Homo sapiens: one gene and its partners. The protein of the gene in region 2 purifies or fractionates together with the protein of the main gene of each other region. This does not show direct contact. Each region holds a gene or a part of one and is shown on either strand. Other genes may lie near its edges. The genes, in order: IGSF3, CEACAM8, EDEM3, UGGT2, CELSR3, TMTC3 and RPRD2.

Region 1 (4,650 bases), on a different chromosome or scaffold from region 2:
ACTTCATAATTACTTATATATGAATAAGTAAATTAACAGAATGTCAGGTGGTGATATGTGTTGTGAAAGGGCCGGGGAAAGGAAATCTAGAGTGATGAGGGGGCTACATTTAAGTTAAAATGAGCTAGGAATCCCCCTTCACGGAAGAGCAAGACAAATGAATATCTATGGCCAACATGTTCCAGGCTGACAGAACAATAAGTACAAAGGCCTTAGGGTGATCAAGGAAAGCAACCATTTATTCCTTATTCAACCAATATTTACTAAAAGTACCATGCCAGTGGCTGAAGATATAAGACACAGCCCTGTCCTCAACATGCTTACAGAGTAGTACAGAAGAAATGCAAACCATTATTAGGCTATGTGTTTTAGAAGGGACCCCTACTGGTATGGGAGAAATCAGGGTAGGCTTCTTGGAGGTGGTGCTGAATGAAGTCTTAGGGATGGAGTGAAGACAAGGGAGAAGCAGCAGGAAAAACACATTTCAGACAATGAGGGCAGCACAAGCGAAGGCACGGAGATGAGGCTCTGGGTGGCAACACAGCACCCCCCATGGCCCATCAAGAAGGACAGGCAGTGACAACAACGAATTGCAGGGATGTGAGAATGAGGGGTGGAGAGGCCCTTCAGGCTACACTATGTGAGAAGTTGAAAGGACTAGAGATCTTTAACAGAGAAGGGGCATACATTTCATGTATTTGAAAGGAAATGACGCAGACTTCTCTTTGGTTGTTCCAGGGGCAGATCTAAAAAGGGAAATTACAGGAAAGTGAACTTTTTAACAATCAGAGCTGCCCAAAAATGGAACTGAGGCTTGCGGACTGAATAGCTCTCCCTCCCTGGAAGCATTCTGGCAGAGGTTGAGTGCCACCTGTGAGGGAGAGGAATAAGGGCTACACCATGGGATCAAGGAAGGGCCAGAGGAGGAATGATTCAGTTTGGAGATAGGAAAGGCTTGTCTGGGCGGGCTGGGAGCTAAGGAAGAAGGGGGATGCAGATGCATAAAACCAGAAAATGCCTTCTAGGTAGGAACTCTGGGTGTGGAGCTGGTGTCAGCCCAAGATTCAGGGTGCAAACTGCAAACCCAGAAGAAGATTCAGGAGCTGCCATGAACCCTGCCTTGCCACATTTTGCTAACCACAGCTGCCCTGCTCCTTGGTGAAGATGGTATCCACAGAAGCAGAGTCAAGGATGCTTCCATGAGTCTGCCGTCAGCATCAGGACCCACTGCAGGTAAAATGGATGGGATTGCAGTGTGCTAGGGTGATGGTCCGTGTACCTGCACCCATACTCAGCATGCACCTTGCAGACAGTCTCTCCACACCAGCCCCACAGATCCCCACCCACCCCCAGGCAGTCTCTGCACTAAACCCACTGGCCCAGGACAGCCGTGCCCTGCGGCCTTACCTGGCTGTTTCACAGTGACTTCTGTGCGCCCAGAAACCTCCTCTGCCAGCTTGTACCAGGCGTAGTTGGGGCTCAGCAGCCACTCCTCCACGTGGCAGTAGTAGCTGCCGCTGTCGCTGACCTCGGCTCTCTGGACGGTGAGGCTGAACAGGCCCCCCGACACATGCCTCTCAAACTGGAGCCTGGCTCTCAGGCCCTCCTCCTCGGCGTAAGTACCGTATTCAAAGGCGGAGTTGTGGGTGGTCTTCAGGATAAGCTTGCCATCGGCATCCGAGGGCTTGTGGACATACCAGAGCACCGCAAAGTGGGAGTTCTGGCTAGTCTGAGACTTGACTGAGCAGTTCAACTGAATGGGCTTGTTTTCCACCAGGGTGAGGGTCCTCTTCGATTTGCTCACCTGCAGCTTTGTCACTGCAAAGGAAAGGGGAACACAGGAATCACCACAGACTCCCAGAAACGTGGCCCATCCACCTCCAGGCTCTGAGCCAGGTTTCCTCCAGCACAGTTCCTGGGGGATTTAACACCGACTGGCTTCAGTGTGAGGAAGGCAGCACGGAGCCCAGGCCACCGCTAAACATCCTTCCCTGTCTCCTCCTTGCCATGCGCCTGGCTTAGGCCTTCACCATCTCTCCCCTATCCACTGCCTGCACAGCCCACCATCACAGGGCCTCCAAGGGTGATCCTGCTGAAATACAAATCTAGCTATATCAGGTCTCTGCTTGAAAAGTTTAATGGCTCTGAACTACCTACGGGCCAGAGAGAAACAATTCCTTTTCACAGCACAAAGTCCCTTCAGGATCTGGCCTTCACCCAAGTGTCCTGACTCATCTCTCACGACTCACCCTCAGGCACCCTCCACAGGCGCATGCCCCTGGTGCAGTTTCCCTGAGCCCTGGCCTTTGCCCTTGCTGTCCTCTCTGCCTGTCTCCTTCTGCCACCTCCCACCCTGACCCTTCTCTCCACTTATCCCTCATTCCCGTCCCCCTGGGCTCCATACCCTTCCTCAGCACCCTCTATATATCTCTGGGCTGTGTGTCCTCACATCTCTCTCCCATATCCTAGATGGTGAGCTCCCCCAGGGCAGGGATCAAACTCCTTCCACTCAATCAGCCAGTATTTACGGAGTGCCCACTCGGTTTCCCACAGGATGCTAAGTGCTGGGGATGCCCTGAAGAGTAAGCCGGAGTCCCAGCCCTCATGGGGTGGACTGCCTAGCGGACATTCTTATCGCTGCACCCCCAGAGCCTAGCACAGCACCTGGGCCAGGAAAGCATTTGATCAGTGTTTGCTGAAATAGGTGAACGAGTGGGTGAGCGAATGAGAGCACGTTGGAGAAACACGGCAACAGGTAATTAGAGGATGCTGCGGGCGGGGGGAGAGGGGGCTTCCTCTGGGGGAGTGAGAGAGAAGGCTGAGAAGACAGTAAACCACGGGACAAGGCAAAGCCAACTACAATCCTCCCTTCTCCTCACTGTCCTGCTCCAAAAACAGACAAGAGGGCAGCCTGTGGAGCGCCTCCCCAGCAGCTAATTAATGACGATGTTCACCTTGCCAGTGGCAAGAAGCCAAGGTCTAATGAAATCCATCTTAGGAAGGTGATTTGAGATCTCACCCACCCCATCATCATTAACCTCGGCTCTGCATTCCCCTACCCAAGCCTTTCCCGCTACTAAAAATGAAAAAAAAAAAACAAAAAAACAATTCTAAGTTCCTCTTAGGGAACTAATAGTACAAGAATTGTTCCACCTCCACCACTCTCTTCACACTTAGTTTTTCCGCCACAGGGACCAAACCACTTCCCAGCTGAGAAAGAAAGCAGGGGCAAGGTGCAGATTCCACCCAGGGACAGCAACCTAGGCCTCCTCCAACCGAGCTTGTGTGGAGGGCAGGGGCAGGGGCAGGGCAGGGATGCCTGGCCAGGCTCCAGCACTCTACTGGTCAGACTCTTGTCTCTTTAGTCCAGCTCAACCCCAGGAACTGCATCCAGACCCAGGACCCAGCCCACTGGTCATGACCCTGGCCTGCCAGCTGGCTTAAGCTTGGTTTGGCAGCATCAAGGGTTGATTGAGTCCCATGCATCACAGAACCAAAACTTGTGAAAGCCACAGACTGCCACTTGGTCTCCCTGTAACACACAGACAAATGTTCTGAATGGATGGAAGGATTTAGCAAGCCAAGGTGTGGCAAAGTCCAATTCCCAATGCCATGACTGAGCAACACTGCGGAGCATCTCCCGCAGTAAATCGGACATTCTCTCCAGGAAGACTTGTTGAATTCACAAACCCACAGACCTTCTCACGCCATCAAGAACACACCAGGCACCACTTAGAGAGAAATCCTGTGTGCCACGGCCCCACCCTCCCGGGTTCATCTTTTTTGTTAGCAAGTCCAATCTTCTGCCTTCTCCCTTCTTCAAATGCAGAAAGTCCTCTAGGGCACACTAGGAATCCAGGACAGGGTTTACCATTAAGCTCCCAAGCTCTGGAAACTAGATTTGCATTCGCTTGCCAGTCGACTTTTCAGATTGGATTCCTATAATACTTGAAACAACCGGCTCCCTTTTCATTCCTTTCCAACCCAATTCACCGCATGCAAATGATATCTATATCAGTGCAAATGACACCACCTGAATTATCTGGTTCTTGGCCAAAAAAACTGGGTTGTTCAGCATGGAGTAGAAAGAGCTTTAAAATGTATTATTAATTGGGGCCGGATTATTTTTGCAACTGTTACTAAGGAAACCTCAATTGCTATAGTAACTGCATATGTTAAACTGGAATCCTATGACTAAACTTCTATTCAGTCACATGGTCTGAGAACATGAATTCAAGGAAGAGAAATGTTTCAAAGCATTTCCATTTTTTTTCCTTCCCATGTCAAAATATTGTGAAGTGTTGAGAAGCTTGAAAGAGAGGCATTTTTTAAATTTGGTGCACGTCTGACAGGTGGGCAAGGGGTCAGCTCCTATTCTATGCTCTGGATTTCCTCCCACATCTCCAGGGCAGGTAGGACCTTTCCTGAGGCACAGGGGAGACTGGAATCTCCACATATAATTAGGGAGCCCTCCCATGTCCTGCCAGAGCCCTGCCCTGGGCGGTGTACAGCTTGCGTGCACCACCTTCCTCCACAGAGCTAGGAGAGCCCTGCCCACTTAGAGACCACAGGTGTTTTCATCTGCAAAATAAGAACAATGTCTCTATCTCCATTAGGAGTTTTGTGCAGACTAAAAGCAATGGTCTATAA
Region 2 (3,741 bases):
TCCATGTAATTTAACATATCAAGTAAGGCTGGGCGTGGTGGCTTATGCCTGTAATCCCAGCACTTTGGGAGGCCGAGGCGGGTGGATCACAAGGTCATGAGATCGAGACCAGCCTGACCAACATGGTGAAACCCCGTCTCTACTAAAAATAGAAAAATTAGCTGGGCGTGGTGGCAGGTGCCTGTAATCCCAGCTACTCGGGAGGCTGAGGCAGGAGAATTGCTTGAACCTGGGAAGCAGAGGTTGCAGTGAGCCGAGATTGTGCCACTGCACTCCAGCCTGGCGACGGAGCGAGACTCCGTCTCAAAAAAAAAAAAAAAAAAAAAAAAAAAAAAAAATATATATATATATATATATATATATAAAATAAGGTGGCTTTTCCACTTAGCTTCTGTTTCTCAACTGGATTACTGAGTTCTTGGTGGAGCCCATTAATGAACAGGGCCAGCAAAATATAGGCTTGTATATGTTGAAAAAGTTTTCTAGGAAATTCTAATACTCCCAGCTAAAGAACCATTGTTTTAGCCTCATGTGCTACCTATTAGAACAGGAGTTCTCCATCCTGGTTACATGTTAGTAGCATCTGGGAAGGCTTAAAAATTACCAATGCCTGGGTCCCACTCCAGATAGTAGGTAAGAATTTATGGATGGGGCTTGAGCATCATTTAAAAAAACATTTCTCAGTGATTCCAATGTGTGGCTATATTTCCCATCAGATTTCTCTGATTTCTTGTGGCATTCACTTTTTTCTATTTTGGTATTATGATTATTTTTCATATCTTATCTCCTGTCTTAGGCTGTATGTTCTCTGGGGTAGGGATCTTGCCTTTTTCATTTCTGTATCTTTCATGAACACATGAATTGGTCATCAGGAAAAGGTTCTCAACCACACGTAGGCTGTGTCCTGAATCTCAGGTTCACACATTAATGCTAGAGTCGTTGTTCTCCATGAGGTCAGAGGTTGCTTGCTTTGAAGGGTATGTGGGCAACTCCACAGTTCAGATAGTGGATGGGAGATTACCCTGTTTCTAGGCATAGCATTGGAACTAAGAATTCTATGTGTATATGGGGTAGATGCGCAGGGAAGTGTAGGAAGACAGTTCTAATTAGGATGGAGGAATTATACTAGGGAGTAGAGGGAATGGAAGTGAGAAGAATTAGTAAAGAGAAGAAATGTGAACTTATCAAATAGGCCAGAGTAGGCCTCTGAAGATTCTTGAGTAAGTGAGTGAACTAGATTTTAGGAAGGTAATGAGACAATCATATGCAAGGAAGATTTCAAATACTAGAGACAAGAAGTCAAGCAGGACTTCGAGCAGTTGTTGAGGTCTATGGGAATGGATAAAATGACACAAGTGAGAGATGTTAAGAAAGGATCAAAAGACTTTCATAGTGTATTGAATCTGGGAAACAAATGAGCAGAGGCTGGGAATAATCACATCTAAGAGACAGTGGGGTACAGGGAGCATGCAGACCAGGGAAGAAGAGACCTGCAGGAATTAGTGCTGAGAAGCAGGAGTTTATTGGGAGGAGGAGGAGATCCATTCCCGGGATACAGGTCTCTCTCCCAAGCATGGCGGTCAGCCCTGCAGGAAACAGGACAAGAGGAAAGGCCATCATACCTGCCAGTCTTCTTGAAATGCAGAAACTACACCAGAGCTACTATATCAGAGCCACCCTGGCCAGTACTCCAATCATGATGCTGACAGTGGCTCTAGCTGAGAGGCCAGGAGAACTTCCTTGTACTAAAGCATCTGTCATGGAAAGAAAAGAAGAGAAGGAATGAAGTTGATGCCATTTTACAGTGGGGTACCCCAGGAACCAGCTCCTAGCATGAAGTAGTCTCTACTTGTTTTTTCAAGGAATACATTATTTTTGTGGGAAGGTTGCTGGGACGTGATTAGCCAACTATATTCTTGCAGGATTTTTTCCTCTCACCATGTTTCTAGGTTGACGATCAGTCTTCGGTCAATTTCATCCTGGCATTTCTTTACTCAGATATTTTGAAGGCTTTGTGATGTGAAAAAGCTGATTGCTATTTTATGTGTCATTAGAACTTTCCACCTTTTCATGGTTGCATCTTTTTCTCAGTGTCTTAGTTGTGGCAGGTCTCTATGGCAGGGAGCTGATTGACAGAAGGCCCAGGTCAGTGCATTCCAAATTGACCACCTCCTTTGCACAGAGACCTCTCTTCCCAGGGGCTCCCAGCAGGGGTATGGAAGCAAGCCCAGTTTTGTGAGACTCTGTTTAACTCTGATGGGTGACTAGTTGGAGGACGCCCCATCAGCCTTGCCTAAACTCACTTAGAACTGCACTGCTATCTAAAACTTCTTTTTCTTTCTCCTTCACAGGAATCAAATCTGCATCGTGGTCTGAGGGCTCTCCCAGGCTCCTCTCACACCTGCCCCATTTTCCCTCACAGGTGTTTTTCCTAGTAAATTATCTTGCGTGTCTAATCTCATCTTGGTTGCATCTCAGTGGGTTAAAAACTAACATACCAGGTTTGATTCTTTGCACTTAGCTTTTTTTCTCTCTTTCACGTGTAACCAGTAACCATGTCCTCGTGTTTCCTGTGTTGCCTTTTTTTTATATGTGTGTGTATTTACCTAAGATACCTTTTACACACACACACACACACACACACAACCTTTTGCATCTGTTTCTTTATTTCTATTGGAACCATTTACTTTTGGCCCTCACCAGTCAACTCAGGCTGATGATTAATGCTATGTTAGCTACTGTTGAGGGGCAGCTCCTATGGGCCAGGCCCTGTGCTAAATACTTTACCTCATTTGATTTATACAATAACTCTCTTGGGTAGAACATTATTTCCATTTTACAGATGAAACGACAGAGGCTTAGAGTGGTGAAAAAACTTTCCTGATGTCATATGGCTGGTGAGAAGTAGACTTGAGATTTGATTCTAGGACTACTCAGCTTCAAGCTAATGATAACAGTAGTAATATATCAGCTAAAATTTATGAAACATTTCCTCTGTGTGGGGCATTTTGCTGAAGGTTTCATTGATGATTACATAAAACTCTTAAAACAATGCTATGAAGCAAACACTGTTACTGCAATTTTCAGTTGAGGAATCAGAGGCTCAGAGAAGTTAAGAATCTTGTGCAAGAAATTTATAACTGTTAAGTCTTACATTAAAAAAGAAGAAACATCTCAAATCAACAACCTAATTTGCAACTTCATGGTACAGGAGAAAAACAAACTAAACCCAAATATATTGAATGAAGGAAGTAATAAGGATTAGAGTGGATATAAATGAAATGGAGAATGGACAAACAATAGAGGAAATCAATGAAACCAAAAGTTGGTTCTTCAAAATAAGATCAACAAAATTGCCAACCATTAACTAGACTGACTAAGAAAAAAAGAGACAAGATGGAAATTACTAAAATCAGAAATGAAAATGGACTCCCAGCATGGTGGCTTACACCTTCAATCCCAGCACTTTGGGAAGGCAAATTGGGAGGATTGCTTGAGGCCTGGAGTTTGAAACCAGCTGGGGCAACATAGGGAGACCCTGTCTCTACAAAATTAAAACAAAAATTCAGCTGGGCATGATGGTATGCACCTGTAGTTTCAGCTACCTGGGAAGCTGAGTTGGGAGGATTGCTTGAGCCCAGGAGGTTGAGGCTGCAGTGAGTTTTGATCGCACCTCTGCACTCCAGCCTGGGCTGACCTAAGGAGTGAGACTCGTCTTTCTCTCTCTCTCAAAAAAAAAAA
Region 3 (4,650 bases), on a different chromosome or scaffold from region 2:
TGACATGTGTTTTTTGCCAATTCTAATTTATAGTTTTTTAAGCCTTGCCTGTAATTACTTTTAGCAGAGAGGAGAGTTTCAGGAGTGGAGCTAAACCCCCTCTGAGAGCCAGAGATTTCATGGCCACTAACCCTGAGCATTTAGAAATCCTGAAGAAGATGGGGGTGAGTTTGATTCACCTCAAAGATGGGAGAGTCCAGTTGGTCCAACATGCAATCCAAGTAAGACATTGCTACACTAATTAGATACCGTCTCTGCCCTGCTTTCTTTGGTCGCATTAGCTTTAATAAGATAATGGATTTCAACTTTCTAAACACTTTAAATATACTGTTTAAAGTGAGAGAATGAGAATTTTAGGACTTGGAAGTATCTTGGAAAGTCACCTAATTCAACTCCTTTATAGTATAAATCAATTAAATAAATCAGAGCTAGGTTGGGTAATTTGCTGAAGTTAATATAATCAAATGCAGGACTCAAATCTAAGTTTTCTGTTTCTCAGTCCATTGGCTTTCCCCTGTTACTTTTATTTACAACATAACTTCAAAAACTAGTAATTAGTTTTAATATTCATATCTCCATGTTTTACATCATTTTAGTCTCCAAAGAGCTACTGAATCTTAAGTATTTTGTTCATCATAGGTATTTATTTGTCTGTGCCTAGGAAAAATAACATGTCTTTTTGAGAAATTTTTATTGATTTTTACTTTGAAAGTTTTTATAACACAAAGTTTTTAAATTATTTACCTTATTAGTATATTGATTCTGAGAAAACCACATAGTTTGCTGAATAATTTTTAACCTAGAACCATATTCAGGTATCCTTTAATCTCAAATTCAACCCTCCCACAACTTCATCACACCCTCAAGTTTTCATCTCATCCATATTCTTGCCACATCCTTCCTTCTTTTAAGAGTATTCTTCCTTCTTCCTTGTATTTTATTTGGCCTCAGTGGGAGTGACATCTCTTGTGACATTGCTTTTACTTACTTAGGCTGCCAATGGCATAATTACTGCCAAGTGGCCTCTTGATCCTTATATGATTTAACTTTTCTGTAACTATTGGCTGAACCCTTCATAAAACATTTTCCCTTTTTGGCTTCCCAGGATATTTCAGAAACAAAGTTCTTTTTCTACTTCACTGTTTATTGCTTTGTAGCTCTCCTTGGCACAACCACTCAATGTAAACAGTTTCCAAGAATCTGGATGATATTCTTTTCTCTATATACTCTTCTTCAACAGTGTCACCTATTTCTACAAGCTTAGCTATCATTTTTATACATATGACTTCTTAGCTATGTATGTGAATCCTGATTCCTAAATTTACTATTAAATTCAACTTTCATCTACCTCTCATACATCTTGCATCTCAATCTCAATCTGTCCAAACTTGAATTATCTCTTTCTTGTTTACTCTCTTTCTACCCTCACCTCAACCTATGTTTCCTTCTTTGGCTCTCCATGTCAGTAAAACCTATCATCATTCTTTAAGTCATCAAAGCTGGAAATTTCAGGATAGGTTTGAACTCTTCTTCTCTTCCAGTTCCTCTTATCCTTTTCCATCCTCTAACTTCTATCATGTCTTGTTGGTTTTTCCTGTAAAGTATCAGGAATCATCTTATTTTTTTCTATTATAGTCATTCTTCAACTTTCCCTCTGTTAAGACTCAATTCAAGTGTCATTCTAAATCTTTCCCAGGTACACACAAGCAGAATCAATTGTTCCCTCATCTGTGCTCCTTTTCCACTTTCCCACTTGAGAAATTTTATCATAGCTAACTTTACATGTCTTTCTCCTCCAGACACAAATTTCTTAAAGGACTGTCTCTCCAATGCCTAGGCAAGTGCTGAGATGGAATAAGTGCTTCACAGATATGTTTTGAATCAAATTGAATCTGGTTGTTCACTATTTCAAGGAGGGAAAGTGTGGGTCAGGTATGAGGTTTATTTCTTCAGAGGGAAAGCCAGTGGGGAGAATAAGCAAAGTGAGCATTTGAGCATTCGCTAGAAGTCCAGTTCTCAATCTGAATCAAAAGTGGTTTATAGAATAGCGAAAGTGACATTGATAAAAAATACGGATAAGTTATTTTCAGAAATACTATTTCTGAAAGTATTATTTTTGAGTACAAATAAGGTCATAAATACTTGGTGGTGACCTAAAGTGAAAGAAGAAGTTGTAGAGTAGAATACTACAGTACAGTGTCTTTAGGAAATCAAAAAATTGGTGGAAGTTTCCAGAAAGGAAGGATAAAATGAATTTGTTTTTTTCATAGGCTGCTAGTTCAATCGACGCTGAAGATGGGTTGAGGTTCATGCAGGAGATGATTGAATTGTCAAGTCAGCAACAAAAAGAACAGCAGCTGCCTCCACGAGCTGTACAAATTGTTTCCCACCCATTTTTTGGCAGGGTAGTATTGACTGCTGGACCAGCTCAGTTTGGGCTGGATCTGTCTAAACATAAAGAGGTATGTATACTTAAAATATAGTTGTTGAAACTGAATTTAAAATATTAAGTATTGCCTTATTTCTTAGTCTCTTCTCTAATTTAGTAGTTTTAATTTATTTAAAAAACTGAAATAGTCAATCTCCTGGATTTAAGTAAAGTAAAAGCATGTCTTGAAAACTTTGAGTCATAATTTATGTATATAATATGCTTACAGAATTTTAACTAAAATATTATTCAGGTTCTATTCAATTTCTTGGTCTCTTCTCTAATTTAATACCTGTAATTGATCTAAAAATGGTTTTCAGACTTTCTAAGAGCCACTAGAACCTTTCTTTGAACAAAAGTCTAAACCAGGAGCTTAATGTAGAAAACAGCTAAAAGCACAGAAGCTCTGGCTCAAGTGACTGGAGAAAGCCTGGGACCCTGAGGTTCCACTGGGCAAACTTTGAAGATCATTTAGCTAGTCCATCCTCTATAGTTGTAACATAGTTATAACGTAGAAAACAAAGACTTACATAACTAAGCAATTCACAAAGTTATCTAACTAATTGATTGCAGAGCTGGGACCAGAGCCCAAGTATCGTGACAATCTAAAGCCAATGCTCTTTTCACTCTATTACTGCTAATTTAGACTTTTTTCTCATGTATATTTTAAACTATGTAGAAGCTATATAGATTGATTGATTCATTCAACTGTTGATTGAGTGCCTACTATATTCTGTGCACTGCTTGCTGTATCAGTTTACAAAACCAATGAAGATCCATGCCCTTATGGAATTTACATTTTAGTAGAGTGAAGGATATTAAAACATCTTTATAGTAACGTGTTTAAAAAAATTAGTTCCTTGGTGGATTTAATTTTTTTGGTAAAAAGAACTGCTTGCAGATTCATATAGACTAAGTCCATTTTTTCCCCTTTCAAAAACTTTTCTTGTTACCAATGATCATTTCAAATTAGTTCCCAGCTATTGTAAATGTAGTGAATCTGCCTGCAGGTCCCAACTTTACTGCTTAGTAACATCGTGTTAACATTGTGAGCAAATTACGTAACCTGAGTCTCAATTTCCCCATATGTGAAAGGGAAATGTTATTTGTATTGTTTTGCTCAGGGTCATTATAAATAACAGATTTTGTAGTTTATATAAAAATGTTCTATAAACTGCAAAGCACACTAGAAATATTGGTTGAGTACTGTGATATGCAAAATGTTTAAAACAATATTTTATGGTGACTATATGTTAGATACGTTATCATTAGAAAAGAAATGAGTTCTAGTTCTTTTAAAACTCTAGATATTGAGGTTTAATGACTTGATTGCCATTTGAGAAGATTAAAGTATTTAAGTTGCTTTTATTTCTGACAGACAAGAGGATTTGTTGCAAGCAGTAAACCATCCAATGGTTGTTCAGAGCTTACTAACCCAGAGGCAGTGATGGGAAAAATCGCACTGATACAAAGAGGACAGTGCATGTTTGCAGAAAAGGCACGCAACATCCAGAATGCTGGAGCCATTGGTGGCATTGTTATTGGTAAGTAATCATCCATGTCATTGTGTTGACTGAAGGGGAGATAATTTTTAGGATTTTTTCCCTTTTATTTTCTAAAATTTTATCAAAGAGTTTGTCATAGTTTTTTTTACCTCACCTAGACAACAAGGATAGGTAATCCAATGACTTTTAATTTCTAGATATCTAACATCTTTTTTAAAAGTCTAGATTTGAATTTCTGTATATTAATGTCAGTGAAAATACTTGGGTTTAGGTGTGAGGGTGAGGTAGGGCTGAGTAGTAAAAAAATTCAGTACCATGGATAAGAAAAGGTGCCCATGAGATCCATAACCCCCGAAGGGCAAGAATTACACTGTGCCACGTCCAGTGGGGAGCCATTGAAAATTTCCATTACTCCACAAAGATGCAGGCTTTGGAGGCAGACACATGAGAGTACAGTTCCTGGCTCTACCACAAAATTGCAGTGTAACCTTGGCCTAGCTTCAGTTTTTTAATCTGTAGATTAAATAGTATAATTTTTTTTTATTTGATAGTAGAATATTTTTGAGCTCCAGTGGAAGTGATAATAAATATATTTTAGGTGATTGTAAGGTTTAAAGATATATAAAATTTCTTGGCATAATAGCAGACATAGGATAAGTGCTACTATAACAGGGTTTACAGTATTGCTAGCAGATCTTTATCCCCTTGGATCTTTTT
Region 4 (5,298 bases), on a different chromosome or scaffold from region 2:
CCATCCCCATCAAGCTACCAATGACTTTCTTCACAAAATTGGAAAAAACTACTTTAAAGTTCATATGGATACAAAAGAGAGCTCGCATTGCCAAGACAATCCTAAGCAAAAAGAACAAAGCTGGAGGCATCACGCTACCTGACTTCAAACTATACTATAAGGCTACAGTAACCAAAACACCATGGTACTGGTGCCAAAATAGAGATATAGACCAATGGAACAGAGCAGAGCCCTCAGAAATAATACCACACATCTACAACCATCTGATCTTTGACAAATCTGACAAAAACAAGAAATGGGGAAAGGATTCCCTATTTAATAAATGGTGCTGGAAAAACTGGCTAGCCATATGTAGAAAGCTGAAACTGGATCCCTTCCTTACACCTTATACAAAAATTAATTCAAGATGGACTAAAGACTTAAATGTTAGATCTAAAACCATAAAAACTCTAGAAGAAAACCTAGGCAATACCATTCAGGACATAGGCATGGGCAAGGACTTCATGTCTAAAACACCAAAAGCAATGGCAACAAAAGCCAAAACTGACAAATGGGATCTAATTAAAGTAAAGAGCATCTGCACAGCAAAAGAAACTACCATCAGAGTGAACAGGCAACCTACAGAATGGGAGAAAATTTTTGCAATCTACCCATCTGACCAAGGGCTAATATCCAGAATCTACAAAGAACTTAAACAAATTTACAAGAAAAAAATTAAACGACCCCATCAAAAAGTGGGTGAAGGATATGAACAGACACTTCTCAAAAGAAGACATTTATGCAACCAACAGACACATGAAAAAATTCTCATCATCACTGGCCATCAGAGAAATGCAAATCAAAACCACAATGAGATACCATCTCACACCAGTTAGAAGGGCGATCATTAAAAAGTCAGGAAACAACAGGTGCTGGAGAGGATGTGGAGAAATAGGGACACTTTTACACTGTTGGTGGGACTGTAAACTAGTTCAACCATTGTGGAAGACATTGTGGCGATTCCTCAAGGATGTAGGACTAGAAATACCATTTGACCCAGCCATCCCATTACTGGGTATATACCCAAAGGATTATAAATCATGCTGCTATAAAGACACATGCACACACATGTTTATTGCGGCACTATTCACAATAGCAAAGACTTGGAACCAACCCAAATGTCCGTCAATGATAGACTGGATTAAGAAAATGTGGCACATATACACCACGGAATACTATGCAGCCATAAAAAAGGATGAGTTCATGTCCTTTGTAGGGACATGCATGCAGCTGGAAACCATCATTCTCAGCAAACTATCACAAGGATAGAAAACCAAACACCTCATGTTCTCACTCATAGGTGGGAACTGAACAATGAGAATACTTGGACACACAATGGGGAACATCACACACCAGGGCCTGTTGTGGGGTTGGGGGAGCGGGGGATAGCATTAGGAGATACACCTAATGTAAATGATGAGTTAATGGGTGCAGCACACCAACATGGCACATGTATATCTATGTACCTGCACGTTGTGCACATGTACCCTAGAACTTAAAGTATAATAATAAAAAAAATAGCTGGGACTTAATTAAACTAAACAGCTTTTGCACGGCAAAAGGAATAGTCAGCAGAGTAAACAGACAACCCACAAAACGGGAGAAAATCTTCACAATCTATACATCTGAAAAAGGATTAATATCCAGAATCTACAAGGAACTCAAATCAGCAGGAAAAAAAAAACAGTCCCATCAAAAAGTGGGCTAAGGACATGAATAGACAATTCTCAAAAGATATATAAATGGCTAACATGAAAAAATGCTCAACATACTAATGATCAGGGAAACACAAATCAAAACCACAATGCGATACCACCTTACTCCTGCAAGAATGGCCATAATAAAAAAATAAAAATAAATAATAGATGTTGGCGTGGATGCAGCGAACAGGGAACACTTCTACACTGCTGGTGGGAATGTAAACTAGTATAACCACTATGGAAAACAGTGTGGGGAGTCCTCAAAGTACTAAGAGTAGATCTACCATTTGATCCAGCAATCCCACTACTAGGTATCTACCCAGAGGAAAAGAAGTCATGAAAAAGATAGTTGCACAAGTATGTTTATAGCAGCACAATTCACAAGTGCAAAAATGTGGAACCAATCCAAATACCCATCAATCAACGAGTGGATAAACTGTGGCATATATATGATGGAACACTACTCAGCCATAAAAAGGAATCAATTAATGGCATTCACAGCAACCTGGATGAGATTAGAGACTATTATTCTAAGTGAAGTAAGTCAGAAATGGAAAACCAAATATAGTATGTTCTCACTGATATGTGGGAACTAAGCTATGAGGATGCAAAGGCATAAGATTGACACAATGGACTTCGGGGACTCGGGGGAAAGGTTGAGAAGGGAGTGAGGGATAAAAGACTACAAATTGGGTGCAGTGTATATACTGATGGGGTGATGGGTGTACCAAAATCTCAGAAATCACCACTAAAGAACTTACTCATGTAACCAAACACCACCTGTTCCCCAATAAACTATAGAAATGAAAAAAAAAAAGAACTTTTAGCATCAAATACATGAACTTATGTGGAGTCATGGAGTCTCTTTTTAGGGACACACACTGTTGCTGTGGTGAACAGCCATTAAGTCATTGGTGTAAAACTTCATTTTTGCTAAGAGAAAGAACTTTCTAATTTTACTCAACTAGAATACTAAAGGGCAAAATGCAATAGCTACAAGTTTTGTTCTGCAGAGTAAATGACAGGTCATGAACTAATTCCGTTGGAAGAGATACAGGAAAAATATTACCTTGCAGGAAGCTGCCCTCCCCATAGTAAGCCTAGGAGCTGATGGTATGATGTCATCATTACGAAACTAGGTACTTTAAGCACTGTCTGAACAGAACTGCCTACCCCAGTAGAAGCTCTTGCGTTAAGTGCCACGCGTAAATGCTAATACATCCCAACGTATTAAAGCAGGGCAGGGAAGCTTTAAAAATCGTAGGTAAAGTAAGACTGAGGGGGAAAGGAACTGCAAGTGAGTGCTGCACGGGAACCGAGAAGCCGCCCCGGGTCGGGAAGGAAGGAGGTGGTGATGCTCAGGGCCAGAGCGGGGGCGTCTGGAGAACCCGGGTGGGAGCCAGACACCCGCTGCGAGCACGAAGAAAGCGCGGCTGAGGGTGGCAGCGCGCCCACACCCGCCCGGACGAGGGCCCGGCCCGCACCCACCTTGCCTCCAGCAGCAGCGGGGTCTCGGGCCACTTCGCGGCCAAGTGGGCAGTCACCGACTTGGACGCGGCGACCGTCCCGGAGCCGAGCTGCGAAAGCCACAGCGCTGTGGAGCCTAGTAGCAGCCGCACCACGTTCGTGGCTTTCGCTGGCGCCATGGCACGGAGAGAAAAGCGCGAGTCCCTCGGACCCGGTACCCACAGTCTGTGGCCGCCACGCTTCGGCCGGCTCTTCCCGCTGCGCGGCTGCCCACTTCCGGTGGGAGGAGCTCGAGTCCGTTACTGGGTGCCGGGTCCAGACCGGCGCATGCGTGTCCCGCTCCGGCGCGGTTTAGTGGGTGCGGCCTGGAGAGCCCACGCCAGCCGGACACTGGGCCACGTCGGAGCCGCCGGGGCGGCGCCGGGTTGCTGAGCGGCGTCACAGATGCTCCCGCGGGTCCGCTCCCGCGGGTCCATTCCCAGGACTTTGGGTTCTCGGACAGAGGCCTTAGGACACGGGGCGGGAAGCTGGCTCTCCAGACCGAACTAGGGCTCTGGAGTTGCCAAAATCTGGAAGCAAAGTCAGGACCACTTGCATATTGTCCACCTTTTACATAGGAGGAAAATAAGTCCAGTTAAAGTTGAAGTCCCCACCTCACGCAGTTCTCAAGTGTTACTACAGGTTGGAATCACCTGGGAGAGCTTTTATAAGGCCGCCGCCAAGGCCACGCCCCGTACCTGAGAATCTCGGGAGGGGGGGTGAGATGCGGCATCAGTAGTATTAGTTAAAATCCGCAGGCCGGGCGCGGTGGCTCACGCCTGTAATCCCAGCACTTTGGGAGGCCGAGGCGGGCGGATCACGAGGTCAGGAGATCGAGACCATCCTGGCTAAAACGGTGAAACCCCGTCTCTACTAAAAATACAAAAAATTAGCCGGGCGTAGTGGCGGGCGCCTGTAGTCCCAGCTACTTGGGAGGCTGAGGCAGGAGAATGGCGTGAACCCAGGAGGCGGAGCTTGCAGTGAGCCGAGATCCCGCCACTGCACTCCAGCCTGGGCAACAGAGCGAGACTCCGTCTCAAAAAAAAAAAAAAAAAAAAAATCCGCAGGTGATTCCAGTGTCCAATCATGTTAGGAAACCCGTGACTTACGGGTGGCTCTCAAACTTTAACCACTTGCTTGTTAAAACACTGCAGAGTGGTGGGCCTCCCCACAGTGTTTCGGATTCAGTAGAGCCCTTGCGGGGGCCGAGAACTTGCATTTTATTTCTCCCAAGTTCGCAGATAATACTAGTGGCTAGAAATCACACTGGAGCCTTTTCCATTGGAAGGTGTGGTCCAGGGTAGGCTTCAGCTGTGAGCTCAATGGAAATGCAGAAGCTCAGGCCCCGCCCCAGACCTAATGAATCAAGATCTCCAATTTAACGGGAACCACAGGTGATTCCTATGCACAGGAAAGGTGGAGAAGAGTGATTTAGAGGATTACATTTAAAAGTGCACAGAAAAGTGCCAATAAGCCTGAGCATGGTGGCTCACGCCTGTAGTCCCAGCACTTTGGAAGGTCGAGGCGGGAAGGTAGCTTAAGCCGAGGAGGTAGAGGCTGCAGAAAACGGTGATTGCGCCACTGCCCTCCAACCTGGGCGAAAGAGGGAGACCGTGTCTCAAAAAAACAAACAAACAAAAGGCCAATACGTGATAGTTGTTTTGTCAGAGTAAAATATATGGTAAAAGAGTTTAGCGGATGCACGGATTCATTGCTTTTTTTCTCTCCTGTTACTCCTTTGCCCTGCAGGGAAGCTGGATCTCTTGAAGTTGCGGAAACATAGTCATTCCCTTTTTTCGTTTCATTTGCTTAGTCAGTACCCTTCCTTAGAAAACCCTATTCCGCTAAGCAGTTCCACGAATTTCCAGAATAATTTCTCACTTCCAAAGTTTAGCCTTCATTTCCTGATTTATCCTACTTGGTATGATCTATCCTTACTTTAAATTTCCTCTTTATTGTAACTGCCATATAGCACTTAAGTTCTCACTTTAATACTTGAGTACGCTACTTACTTATTTCTCCTGTGAGAGATAGTATATTCCCCCAGAACTCA
Region 5 (4,650 bases), on a different chromosome or scaffold from region 2:
CATCCTGTGTGGCTGTCAGCCCGAAGCCCTGCTGATGGCTCTCGAAGGCCAGCAGGTGGGCCAGCAGGCGGGCAGTGACTCGAACATCTTGGCTAAAATAGTGGTCAGTGTGGCCAGTCACCTCCCGTAGCCGCTGAGCCAGCTTCTTGGCCTCCATGGTATCCAGTGCCGTCTTGTTCAGCTCTAGGCCATCCAGCTGCCAAGACAAGGAGATGGTTGCTCTGTGGTCCCTTAGGCCTTCCTCTAAAGCTTCACAGGGAGAAAGCCTTGCCAGATTAAAGGGCAACCAGGAAAGGCTCAGGAGTTCAAGGGCTAGGGTGTGGTATCTGGGGCCCACCACAGGCCAAGGAAGGTCTTAGGTTGCAGGAAAAGGTCTGGGCAGTCTCACCAGCAGACTGAGCTCTCGAAAGGCAGGGGAGGTACAGTTGAAGAGGTCGGGCTCCAGCCAACCCTGGGCCTCATCACACAGCCGCACAGCAGCACCTGGAGGCAGGCAACCCCTGGTCAGGCCTGGGGCCTGGATACCTTTGCTGAGGAGATAACCGCAGCACCCTCTCCTATGCTGGGGGAATCCCTGAGGCAGAAGTCAGAGTCATGAGCATCTATAGCTGCACCCCTGGAGGTAGCGGCCCAAGCCCAGGTAGGCCCCAGCTGCTTGTCAGGCAATTCCTGAGAGGGCTGTAGACCATTCTCAACCAGCAACCACACAAAGCACAAGGGTGGGGCTGCACACACTCACCCACGTGGGCCAGGACTGGCTCATAGATGTGCTGGTTCACACAGACACACACCAATGCTCACCAATTACACACAGATGTATGGACCAGACCAGTACGCAGACACACAATGCTCTCTCGCACACACACAGACATGCCAACACAGAAGAGGGCTTCTAGGAACATCCAGTGAAAGTCAGGTGGGAGGATTCTCACACAAGTTTTAACTGCCCCAGTGGTTACTTTGCTGTCATTTCTCTCCCTTGTCTCTGGGGTTGGGATGGAGGTTGAATGAGAATTGACTTGGATCTTAAAAAAGTTTGTAGCTACCAACAAGAGAGAGCCTAACTTAATCACAGAATCCCCTCCCCGCAACAGGTTCACAGACACGTGCACAGGCACAGAGATACACACGTGAGCATGCGTACACAAACAATCTCTGTCCAGCCACTGCAGAGACCTCAAGCAGCAGGGAGTGTTCTGAGGGGACCTCAGGCAGTGGGGAGGGGCCCCCAAGCAGCAGGAAGGAGCTATAGGGTCCTCAGACTGAGGAGGGATCTTTCGTGACCTCAGGCAGTGGGGAAAGTTCTATGGGGACCCCAGGAACTGAGAAGGGGTCAGCAGGGTCCTCAGGCAATGGGGAGGGGTCTCTGAGGATCTCAGGCATCAGAGAAGGGCCCCTGGGGTACTCAGATAGCCAGAAGGGGCCTGCAGGGACTTTAGGCAGCAGGGAGGGGTCTGCAGGGACCTCAGGCAGCAGGAGGGGTCTGCAAAAGCTCTGGTAGTGGGAGGGGGCAGTGCACCTGAGCAAACACGTACCCCTTACCTGCACCCCGCAATCCTGCCCAGAAGCCAAGAGAAACAGATGGAGGCTCAATGAGGGTGTAGGGAGGGGCCCACATGGACTCCCACCCCACTTCCACCTCTTTGCAGGAACAAAGCCACCCAATTTAGGAAAAGACATGGCTCTAGCAGTCAGAGTACAGGCCCACCCCCACCCTCAGTGATGTCCTTTCCCCCCACATACTCACCCAGGGCCCCCCGGGGACAGGGCACTGTGGCCAGGACGCCAAACTTTGTCTGGGGCCACCACACACCAGATCTCAGGGACTTAGGGCAGGCATCATAGAGCACTAGAGAGAGAAGAGGTGCTGAGCCAGGCAGTCAGGGTACAGGGCAGTTGACAGCCACACCCACTGCCCCTCCACCACCCCCCACAAGGCCCACTGCCCGCCACTCCTGCTGGCTTCTCAGGAGCTGACCTGTCAGATTCTGTGACAGGTCAGCAAAGTACTTGGGGCAAAGGTAGGGTTCCCTGGGTGTAAGTGGTCTCCCTCAGGAGAAGCTTCCAGAGTCCCCAAGGAGCCATGTGTGCCACTGACACGTGATGGTGGCACACTGGAACCAGCCCTCTATGGGTGGAGCTGGGTGGAGCCTGCTCACCCCGGCAGCCGCTGGCTGTCACCTCTGCGAAGGGACTGTCACAGCTGTTGCACTGGCGGCCAAGGGCTCCTGGGCGACAGGGGCACTGCCCGCTGTGGGGTGCACATGAGCGCGAGGTGGAGCCCACAGGGTAGCAGTCACATGGGAGGCAAGAGTCACTGCCCCGCGGTCGGTAGTGGAACTCCTGTTTGAGGATGGGCCAGGGGCCTGAAGTCAGAGGTCAGGGCTTGGGGAATGAGTGGAATCAAGGATAAAGGGTCAAGAGAACAGTGCTCATGGGCCAGAGGACACCTGGGTCATGCGTGAAGCCAAGGGAGGGGTCACGGGTAAAGGATGAGAGACAGCAACTTGGTCACAGGACACAGGCAAGAGGTTAGGGCCCAAGTCAGGTGGCGGAGGTCAGCAAGCTGGACAGGAATTGCAGATTGCGTCCAAGGAAGGGTTAAAAGGTCAGGGGCCAGGCGCACCTTGCAGTGACACTGCCCATTTGTCTTGTTGCAGTTGGGATCAAAACCTTTGTGAACATCACAGTTGCAGGGGCCACAGGTTGGGCTCCCCCACCAGCCCCGTGGGCACTGCTGGTCCATCCTGGGGGTGCAGAGCCAGGTAAGATGCCTCCACGGTATCCCAGTGACCCTCCCTGTCCCTGCCAGGTCTCCCCATCGCCTCAGCCCCAGCCTCTTACCTGTGCTCACAGTGGTGCCCGAAATAGCCACCCACACAGTCACAGGTATAGCCATGGGGGGCTCCTGGCAGGTGCCGGCATGATCCCTGGTTCTGACAGGGGTTCAGGAGGCAGGCATCCACACAGCCTGGGCCGTAGTAACCTGCAGATTGGGTCAGAAAGCTCAGGATCCTGGTCGCAGAGCATGGAAGGAAGCAGGCACCCGTCCCGAGTCCCTGCCTCCTTCAGGTTCCCCAGTCTTCATCATGGGCCCCTAACGCCTGCCCAGGTCACCCTTCCCCCAACCCTCTCAAGGCTCACCTGGCTGGCAGGTGCAAGAAAAGGTCTGCCAGAGGTCCCGGCAGTCTGCGTGAGGTGGGCAGGGCCCAGAGGCACAGGCGTTGGTCACAACACAGCCAGGCTCCGCATTCACTCGGTGGCTGGGGGGTAGCAGGGCCGGGGAGCCAGAGGGTGTGGAGCCGAGCCACACCCCCTGTGGACACACAGCCAGCAAGGGGTGAGACCATGTTAAGGCACCTCAGCCTCAAGTACTGCAGAGCCAGCCACCCGGTCTGATGATCCTTGACATGCAGTCTTCTGATACCCTCAAAAAACCCAGGCCTCAAAAATATCCCCAATTTGGTACCCCTGTGGGACCCTAATTGTGCTGTTTCTGACACAGATTCCTAAAGGCCCTTGATAATCCAAGCTAGACTCCCACCTCCAATGCCACAGAAAGGCTTGACCTAGCTCTCAACTCTGGGTCATTCACCCCCTCGCACCAACCCCCACTTGAATACTGCCTTTCAGGTCCCAAGGAGCCCCTGACTTCTGACCCCTGACCCTAATGCCCCATATCACATTCCCATGCTGACCCCCACCTGGATGCAGCCAACCAGACCCTGAGGAGCCTCCTCTGCACTGCCGGGGGGCAGGCCTCCCACGTGGAGCTGCTTTACCTTCAGGCCCTGCAGCTCACTCCCCACCGCCATGGTGTCCTGGAGGAAGTGGGGCAGTCAGCACTGAGGGAGAGGGGCCTGATGAACCCCTGTCATAGCCCAGAGTCAGTCTTGGCCTTCTTCTAGCCCTTCTAGGCTGCCCCCTCCCTCCTGGACCCACAGTAGACCTTAATATTGCTTGATTTTGACCGGGGGTGGGTAGAGACTGGGGCAGAGACTAGAAGGGGCTTCTAGGAATCAGGCAAAGTGCTGGCTACAGAGGTTCCCCAAGACCAGGCCCCAAATCTGGCACAAAGAGGGCTTGAGAGTGGACCAACTTGGCTGGTGGGTGGGCTCAGTGCAAGGATATATGGTGGGGAACTAGGGGTAGAACATCAGACTCAGTGCAGTGGAGGGAACTGAGAGGAGCTGGACTAGAGGTGGGGTCAAATAAGGCGGATCTGGTTGGAAGGCTGAGAACAGACTACCCCGGGGTCAGAGGCCAGACCTGGAAGAGGCTAAAGTCCAGTGAGACCATAAGGACATGGTGGCCCCGCCGGCCACCTGGTTCCTCCTGCAACTCCAGCCGCAGATCGTGCCACCGGCCATCACTGACAGTCACCTGGTCCAGAAGGAGATGGGAAGCACGGCCCGAGCCCCTGGTCACTGTCACAGACAGTAACCCCCGATCTAGCTGTGGGCAGAGATGCATAGCCCTGGGGTTAGAGCCCCATGTGGGCTGGGACTTGGAGGTGAGATCAGAGGGCTCAGAGGTCAGGAATATCAGAGGTCAGAACAGTGGGGTCAAGGTTATACCTGGCACAAAGGGCACTGTGCCAGGGGACATCATGTTGCTGATATGGGGTCAGGGGGCAGAGGATAGGACCAG
Region 6 (4,190 bases), on a different chromosome or scaffold from region 2:
ATTATAATGTTTAGTTATTTCTTAGATACATTTCGTAAAACTTTTGTAAAATATGAAAGAATCATAAAGTCGTAGTATTTTAGAGCTAAAGAGGACCTTTGAGTTTGCATTTGCCAGTCTTCTATTTAGTAGAGTGAAAACCAAATAGATTTTATGACTGCCCCAAAGTCATATGGCTAAATAGGTAACCCAAGACAAGAACTGAAGCCTCCTGATTTATTTTCAAATTTTCTTTATCCATCGTGCTGCCAAATAAAAGAATAGAGAGAAGTCTTTATGCCTGGTGTCCAAAAAAGTAGAAATTTGGAGAAAAGCTAATATTTTTGTAAGGTTTTCTACCTTGATAATCATGAAGGATGCTCATTATTCGACACAAGATTGTACTATAAGGTTTGTAATTGTAGAACTTGAACTTTTTTGTTTTTTTGGCTTTTTTTTTGCAATAGAAATTATCTCAATGGAGATTTGTTTCCTGCCAGGCAGTGGCTGATGCCTGTAATCCTAACACTTAGGGAGGCCAGGGTGGGGAGGATCACTAGAGGCCAAGAGTTTGAGAATAGCCTAGGCAACATAGTAAAACTCTGTCTCCACAAAAAATTTTAAAATCAGCAAGAAATGATGGCACATGCCTGTAGTCCCAGCTACTCGGGAAGCCAAGGTGGGAGGATTGCTTGAGCCCAGGAGTTTGAGGTTACAGTGACCTGTGGACACAGCACTGCCCTCCAGCCTGAGTGACATAGTGAGACCCTGTCTCAAAAAAAAGAAGATACATGTTTCCTAAATCCTAATTTTATAGCCCTATATTTAATGGTATGTTTTTGTCCTCGAAACATTCCTAAAACTTTGAAGTAACATTTTTTAAAATGTGATACAGTCATTCTGAAGCTTTTTTCTACCCAGTAATAGTTACTATTTGCTGAACATTTTTTCGATATACAACATACAATTATTAGAAAACTCAGTTAACCCAGAGAAGTTAAGTAACATGTTCAGTGTATAAAGTCATAATGTTATCAGAATCAAGATTGAATACATGTCTTTGTTGGCAAATCCCATGCTTCTTTTTCTGAATTCTCTATTTTCCTTCTATTTCCAATTGAATTCTAAATTATAAGAGACATTTCTCTCCTTTTGGTTTCTGAAGCACTGTTACTGCTTTAAAGGAAAAGAAATAAGCTATCTTTTTACTGTTTCAAATATTTTGCTTTTCCTATGAAGACTTCGAGATTTTTGCTTTCTACTTTTTTTAACTATGGAAATTAGTTGTTTTGAAGCTGTCTTTTTGTAATCTAAGTATTTGAAAATGGCTTTGTTCCTCACATTTAATTATTTTATTAACAATATATTTTTTCTTTAAAAAAACTTTCTAGGTGAGGTTAAACTCAGACCTGAAGCTAGAAAACGACTTCTAAGTTATATAAATGAAGAGCCACTAGATGCTAATGGGTATTTCAATTTGGGAATGCTTGCCATGGATGACAAAAAGGACAATGAAGCAGAGATTTGGATGAAGAAAGCCATAAAGTTACAAGCCGACTTCCGAAGTGCTTTGTTTAATCTGGCTCTCCTGTATTCCCAGACTGCAAAGGAATTAAAGGCTTTGCCAATTTTGGAGGAGTTACTCAGATACTACCCTGATCATATCAAGGGCCTCATTTTAAAAGGAGACATTCTGATGAATCAAAAGAAAGATATACTAGGAGCAAAAAAATGTTTTGAAAGGATTTTGGAGATGGATCCAAGCAATGTGCAAGGAAAACACAATCTTTGTGTTGTTTATTTTGAAGAAAAAGACTTATTAAAAGCTGAAAGATGCCTTCTTGAAACACTGGCATTAGCACCACATGAAGAATATATTCAGCGCCATTTGAATATAGTCAGGGATAAGATTTCCTCATCTAGTTTTATAGAGCCAATATTCCCAACCAGTAAGATTTCAAGTGTGGAAGGAAAGAAAATTCCAACTGAAAGTGTAAAAGAAATTAGAGGTGAATCCAGACAAACACAAATAGTAAAAACAAGTGATAATAAAAGTCAGTCTAAATCCAACAAACAATTAGGAAAAAATGGAGACGAAGAGACACCCCACAAAACAACAAAAGACATCAAAGAAATTGAGAAGAAAAGAGTTGCTGCTTTAAAAAGACTAGAAGAGATTGAACGTATTTTAAATGGTGAATAACATTAATATTTATCGTGACAATGGTATCAAAGAACATCAATCCGTATCATGTGATTGCTTTTACTGGGAGCTTTGAAAAAAAGTTCAAGGGTTCCTAATGGTCAATCATGAGCTGCCTTGAAGTAGGATCAAAATAAGATTTTCATTAAAGACCTGTATTATCCCAGGATGTATATTATGTATCGCTGTTTTCAGAGTGTGGGTGAATATAGCAGAAATATTACAGCGGAAGTGACAAATTTACAACTTTTATTATAGAAAGAAGGTGTTTCTGGCAATGTAATCTTTACTGCTCTCAATTAAAAATAATTTTGAGGCCTGAATGATAATCCCTTGAGGACAAATCCAACATGTGCTGGTTTATTCTGTTAATTCCCATTTATTTGCCTACTTCATTTTTCTTGCACCTCTTAGAATCTAACTATGAATTGAAAACACTTAAGTAATTCTGTTTAATCAAGGGATTTACACTACAAAAGAATGCTGGCTTTTTTTATGTTGTATTCCTTAGTTGAGTTTTAGAAGGAATGCTTGATGAAACATTTTAAAATAAGTCATGACATGTTAGCTTGAGAATGTATTTTCATAATTGTATACTTGTTTTTAACTTTAAATGTAATTTTTAATCAGGTAAAGTTTGACACATGTATAGCTACATACACACATTTTTAATGGTGCTCATATATACTGTATTTTTTGTTGTTTAGTTTTACTTATTGAGAGTGTCACAACATGAATCACATAATCATGATTTTTTTTTTTTACTTTTACTCCCCAAATTATTCATGTTTCTTAGATCGTAGTCATTGAGAAGTCCCAATAACTCTAAACTTTTGAGTTATAACGTAGTAAACTTCTCTTTCATCTTTGTGTTAGCTCTGTAGTCTTAACCTGGATTTTAATTTTTTTGTTTCCAAAGTCACAATTGAATTATTCTTAGATACCTTAAGCCACTGAATTCAGTTCTGTTTGACTGAAAGCAAAACAACGTGACAGTTTATTTTCAAACACTAACTTCTTGATATTTTGTTATGGTATATCTTTTTATTAAATATTTATTTTGACTAAGCTTTCATAAAATATTTGAAGCTATTTTAATCATCAAGTATGGAAAACAAATTACTATTGCATTTTCCTATATATGCATATATTATGGATTAACCAGAATTGTATCATTTTTGGCCTAATGTCTGGATATAAAAGATAATTAGCCTACTATAGTATTAATAAATTTTTCAGTTGGTTTGGGCAAATTTAAACCTGAAAAATAGGTTAAAAAGTAGTTACAAATTAAACTTACTAATTTATACCTGATTTTTTTTCTTGAATTAAAGTACATTTTAAATGAGCTTTATAATACCTTAAAAAGTTGGTTCTAATTTAAAATATGAAAGCTCTGGCTATCATCCTGGGATAGTAATTTCTAATTATATAGTATTTCAAAACTATATATTTTTTAGTTCCTTTGAGATAACTAATTTCTAATTATATATGTTTCAAAAACCATATCCTGTATTTTTTTTAAGAATTGTTTTATAAATAGGTCATAAGATACAAGGTCTGCATTAGAAGACCCACTCTTACTAGGTTCCCTAAGGATCTGCCATAGATTTTTTTTTTTTTTTTTTTTTTTTTAGGTAGTTTAAAGCAAGCACTGATACCAGTGGGAGTTGGTCTTGATCTAGGAGATTCTGTTAAGCATCCAAAAACAATGCCTAATTTCAGTTCTTAGGTTATGGCTTGTGACTCCAGATAAAAGATGGAGAATACCTCATGTACTGTGACTTGAAAATGAATTCTTAAAATTCTTAGGCTCTCTCCATGTATCTTTCTTAAGGAAAAGTTTCTGAGTGTGATCTCTCTTTTGCCATAGTATCAAGTGGAGGGTAGTTCAGAAAAGTTAATAGGAAATCTTTTGTGACAGCAGACTATAATAGAAGTTTGAGTAATATTTTAATAAATTTATATAATTCAAATGATAAAAATGTATCAATGTTATCCAATGATT
Region 7 (3,610 bases), on a different chromosome or scaffold from region 2:
ACCTCCCACCCCATTTTCTCTTATGCTTTTCCCTAACAAATGTCTTAGGACTCAATATAACTATACTTTCTTTTCTTTGCTACACTACATACCCCATCCCACACGTAAGGTCATGGTATCATGCATTTTTGTGGGGAGAGCTACAGGGCAGAGAGGGTCGAGGAAAGAAAGAACAGTTGGCTTAAGACCAGACAGGCATTAAGAAGATGAATGACCTGCAGCATCCTAACCCCAGAACACATGGCGAGCCCAAATAAATAACAGAATAAATTACGCAAAAACTCCCAAATCATGATGTGCACCTGGTTTATGCTGCTCTTTCTCTGAAAAGTTCATTCTGAGAGAATCATTTTCTGTCACTACATTGCCCACCCTCCCCCATCTTTAATATTCTACTGGAGGAAAAAGCAACCCCATACTTCCTATAGTTAGTTCTATACTAACTTGGAAGAAAATATGAAACTTGCCAGAATTCTCTGGAAAACTAAACACATACTGTTTTACTCATCTAGCTGGAGATTATCAGTTGAGTATGCCTTGGGGTAAGACACTAAATTAAAAAAAAATTGTAGTAAAGCAACATTTACTTTTCAGTGTCCCTAGATATAAAGATATAAACACTCAAAGTACAGTGATTGTCTATTTCCCAAGTACTAGATGTAGAAATACAAACAAGTCTTTCAGTCCAGGGAGAAGGAAAGCACTTATCTTGCATGTAAAACAACTAAGGGCAGAAATGGTCTTTATTTCCTATTGGGAGCGAGAGGTGGGGGTAAGACTTGAGCCTTGAAATGGGATAGACACATGTGTATAATATAAAGGAAAATGCTACTGAATCTCCTCCTTTAAAATATCAAGAATAGGGGTGAATAACACGACTGAGGCAAGGGGAAAAGGAAGATAAAGACAAATATTTCTTTCTTTAATAGTTAACCTTTGTTGAAAACCACCAATAAATATCACTTACATTAGGGAGGCACCATGGTAAAATTAATGTCTACTTCTTATATTTAAAAATGCAGGGATAATATTTCTGTTGCACCTTTGTATCAATAGTCAACTGTAGTGACTGTCTTTCTGGCCACAGCAGAAGAAAAACTGAGGGAGATAAAGTCAAAAAGGAAAAGCAAGAGGCATGAGCTTGGTGCAAGACATGTGAAACTACCTTGAAAACATTTCCTATTCTCTTGTTTACAAAAAAACAGGCAGGTCACATCACACCATTAATGCTTCCTTTCCTTATTTTACATACTGTAGTCACTCCTTATTTTAACCTTGAGGCTGATTAAAAAAAGATTTTAGGAGAAGGGTAAAGAACTAAACTTCAACATGCCTTTAAAAACAAAACAAATAAACCTGACAGGTTCAAGGTCTCTCACATTTCCTCCCTTGCAACATCTCTTGGCTGTTAGCAGGACACAGATACACAGGGAAGGGAGCCGAGCTGGCTACAGCAGTTACTAAGCTGCCGAGAGAGGGGACGGGAATCCTTCCATTGACTACTCGATAAGCCAAGCCCAAAATAACATCCCAACATTGCACATGTGGTTATCTGTACTGATGGAAGTTTTATTTCAAATGTAATAATACTCTTCAATAGATGGGGTAAAATAAAGATTGTTTTCCTCCCCACTCCCCAACCCCCCAGCCAAATGAAATGGCTTTGGTTGTGTTTCTTTACTTTTTTTTTTTTTTTTTTTTTTTAATACAAACAACTTGGGGAAGGTAGATAAGTGCAATGGGAGGGAGGATTGAATTGAATAGTAAAACGTAAGCGTATGTGATTTCTTACTTTGGAAGAGAGGCCCTTTGTTATAATAAAAAAAAAATCGAGAAAGAGAAAACAAATAAAAACAACAACAATAAACCAAACTCCTACTTCCAATGTTCTCTAGACTGTTCAAAATGCCTTTCCCTTGGTTTCCATCAGTACCTGGGAGGGAAGAATGGGCGTTTTGGTGCAAAGAACGGAGGGCCCCTAGCAAAAGGTGGCCTGGGTCTCTTTAAACTGTGAAATGGGTCTCTGCTGAGAAAAGGTTCCCTAGGCCGAAAGTCTGGCCGGGGACTCCGTAAGATTATACCACTCCGGCTGATGGTGTCTCTGTGTGAGGGACCCAAGGGGGGGCCACTGCTGCTGTTGCTGCCTCCCCCACCTCCTCCTCCATGGGGTGGGCCCAGGTGTTCCAGAGAATGGGAGGGTAGGGTGAGGCTCTCTCGTACACGGCTAAGGCCAGGGCCGTTGAGGTCCCGTTGGGTGGGGCCCCCGTGGTCCCTGGGTCCTGGGAGTACCCCAAAATGCTCAGCCAGGGTCCCTTGAAGGAGGGAACTATGGTCCTTGGGAAATACTGCCACAGCCCCTGCCACTCCGTGCTCTGCCAGTGGTGGGGCTGGGAAGGGTACAACTCCAGAGTGGTCAACAGGGGGTGGAGGAGGGGGTGGAGTAGAAAAGGGGACACCACTCCCACCACTGCTGCTATGTTCCCCAGGAGGGGGAGGAGGAGGTGGGGTAGGGAAAGGAATTCCACTGTGCTCTCCAGGAGGAGGGGGTGGGGCAGCATGGGCCAGGGCTGCCTCCTTTGTGAAGGGGTTCGAAAGATCCACAGAGGGTAGATGAGTGGGTGCATCTCGAGAGAAGATACCACCATGATCCTTAGGAGGGACAGGTGGGGCAGATGATGGCCCCACTGGCTCTCTCTGGAAGGGTGTCCCATGTTCCAAGGGGGATGGGGGAAGATGATGCTCAAATGTTGAGTTGAAACTGTTGGAACGAAAGCTGCCGACACTCTCCTGAAATTGAGGTGCCCGTTCCTTGTATGGTGCTGTTTTAAAGCCAGTGAGGCCTCCGCTGCCCCCACCCCCAAGGGATGCCAACTCAGAGGCACTTGAAGGGCCATTGTCAAAAGAGCTACCTGATGTGCTCAGATCAAACCAACCCACCCTTGAAGCCTCACGCCCATGTCCTCTATTTCCCTTCCCAGGAACTCGGATGGACTCTACGGTCTGGATCGGCTCCCCTGACATCCTCCTATTGGATGCACTGTGATAACCCAAGGTTTCTATAGGGGCCCCCTTTTCTTCTGTGCTATCAGGCAAGTCTAAGCAGGAGGAGGAGACGCGGGTTTCTATGCGGTAGTGCTCTTCTTGTTGCTGCTGATCAGTGGCGGTCAAGCTGGGTTGGGTGAGGTTTGAGAGACTGACACCATCACTTGGAGTGCCCTTGCTGGGAGCCTGGCCAAAATGCTTATCATCTGAGGGCTTACGTGAGGCGTTTTTAAGCATATTCTTAAATTCAATCGTCGACGTGGTGGAAATGGTGGAGGCCAGGACTTTCTCCACGCCTGACGTGGGTGGGTGACCCGTGGGAGCGGCAAGGGTGTTCTGCGGAGAGAAAAGGGAACGATGTGGGACTGGGTGAGGAGAGTCTGGGTACTGCTTCTGTGGCAAACTGAGATGCCCAGTGGTAGATTGAGACAAGCTATTGTGGTTGGAGTCAGGGGTGAAAAATGAATCATTCTTACTCGGTGATGGTGACCGGTCAGACCCAGGTTCATTCCCTCTTACGCTGAAGGCACCAAATAGCCCAGGGGAAGATGAGAGACGGTCACAGTTC

What was found.
Region 1: the proteins of CEACAM8 (region 2) and IGSF3 purify together in Homo sapiens (affinity purification with mass spectrometry; one large-scale study listed by BioGRID and IntAct). This does not show direct contact.
Region 3: the proteins of CEACAM8 (region 2) and EDEM3 purify together in Homo sapiens (affinity purification with mass spectrometry; one large-scale study listed by BioGRID and IntAct). This does not show direct contact.
Region 4: the proteins of CEACAM8 (region 2) and UGGT2 purify together in Homo sapiens (affinity purification with mass spectrometry; one large-scale study listed by BioGRID and IntAct). This does not show direct contact.
Region 5: the proteins of CEACAM8 (region 2) and CELSR3 purify together in Homo sapiens (affinity purification with mass spectrometry; one large-scale study listed by BioGRID and IntAct). This does not show direct contact.
Region 6: the proteins of CEACAM8 (region 2) and TMTC3 purify together in Homo sapiens (affinity purification with mass spectrometry; one large-scale study listed by BioGRID and IntAct). This does not show direct contact.
Region 7: the proteins of CEACAM8 (region 2) and RPRD2 purify together in Homo sapiens (co-immunoprecipitation; one large-scale study listed by IntAct). This does not show direct contact.

The regions. Positions count from the first base shown.
Region 1 is NC_000001.11:116,587,287-116,591,936, forward strand, and holds part of IGSF3 (immunoglobulin superfamily member 3 isoform 2 precursor), read right to left. Parts: intron 1,819-4,650; coding exon 1,408-1,818; intron 1-1,407.
Region 2 is NC_000019.10:42,581,584-42,585,324, forward strand, and holds part of CEACAM8 (cell adhesion molecule CEACAM8 precursor), read right to left. Parts: intron 2,126-3,741; coding exon of another isoform or gene 2,096-2,125; exon of another isoform or gene 1,939-2,095; intron 1,755-1,938; coding exon 1,663-1,754; 3' UTR 1,623-1,662; intron 1-1,622. UniProt on the Homo sapiens protein: Cell surface glycoprotein that plays a role in cell adhesion in a calcium-independent manner. Mediates heterophilic cell adhesion with other carcinoembryonic antigen-related cell adhesion molecules, such as CEACAM6.
Region 3 is NC_000001.11:184,705,965-184,710,614, reverse strand, and holds part of EDEM3 (ER degradation-enhancing alpha-mannosidase-like protein 3 isoform 2 precursor), read left to right. Parts: intron 1-64; coding exon of another isoform or gene 65-67; coding exon 68-221; intron 222-2,270; coding exon 2,271-2,462; intron 2,463-3,787; exon of another isoform or gene 3,788-3,806; coding exon 3,807-3,972; intron 3,973-4,650. UniProt on the Homo sapiens protein: Involved in endoplasmic reticulum-associated degradation (ERAD). Accelerates the glycoprotein ERAD by proteasomes, by catalyzing mannose trimming from Man8GlcNAc2 to Man7GlcNAc2 in the N-glycans.
Region 4 is NC_000013.11:96,049,928-96,055,225, forward strand, and holds the start of UGGT2 (UDP-glucose:glycoprotein glucosyltransferase 2 precursor), read right to left. Parts: upstream 3,475-5,298; 5' UTR 3,386-3,474; coding exon 3,228-3,385; intron 1-3,227. UniProt on the Homo sapiens protein: Recognizes glycoproteins with minor folding defects. Reglucosylates single N-glycans near the misfolded part of the protein, thus providing quality control for protein folding in the endoplasmic reticulum.
Region 5 is NC_000003.12:48,648,733-48,653,382, forward strand, and holds part of CELSR3 (cadherin EGF LAG seven-pass G-type receptor 3 precursor), read right to left. Parts: intron 4,456-4,650; coding exon 4,270-4,455; intron 3,822-4,269; coding exon 3,705-3,821; intron 3,317-3,704; coding exon 3,145-3,316; intron 2,987-3,144; coding exon 2,845-2,986; intron 2,748-2,844; coding exon 2,627-2,747; intron 2,344-2,626; coding exon 2,160-2,343; intron 1,850-2,159; coding exon 1,748-1,849; intron 484-1,747; coding exon 389-483; intron 197-388; coding exon 1-196. UniProt on the Homo sapiens protein: Receptor that may have an important role in cell/cell signaling during nervous system formation.
Region 6 is NC_000012.12:88,193,468-88,197,657, forward strand, and holds part of TMTC3 (protein O-mannosyl-transferase TMTC3), read left to right. Parts: intron 1-1,370; coding exon 1,371-2,182; 3' UTR 2,183-4,190. UniProt on the Homo sapiens protein: Transfers mannosyl residues to the hydroxyl group of serine or threonine residues.
Region 7 is NC_000001.11:150,471,651-150,475,260, reverse strand, and holds part of RPRD2 (regulation of nuclear pre-mRNA domain-containing protein 2), read right to left. Parts: coding exon 1,927-3,610; 3' UTR 1-1,926.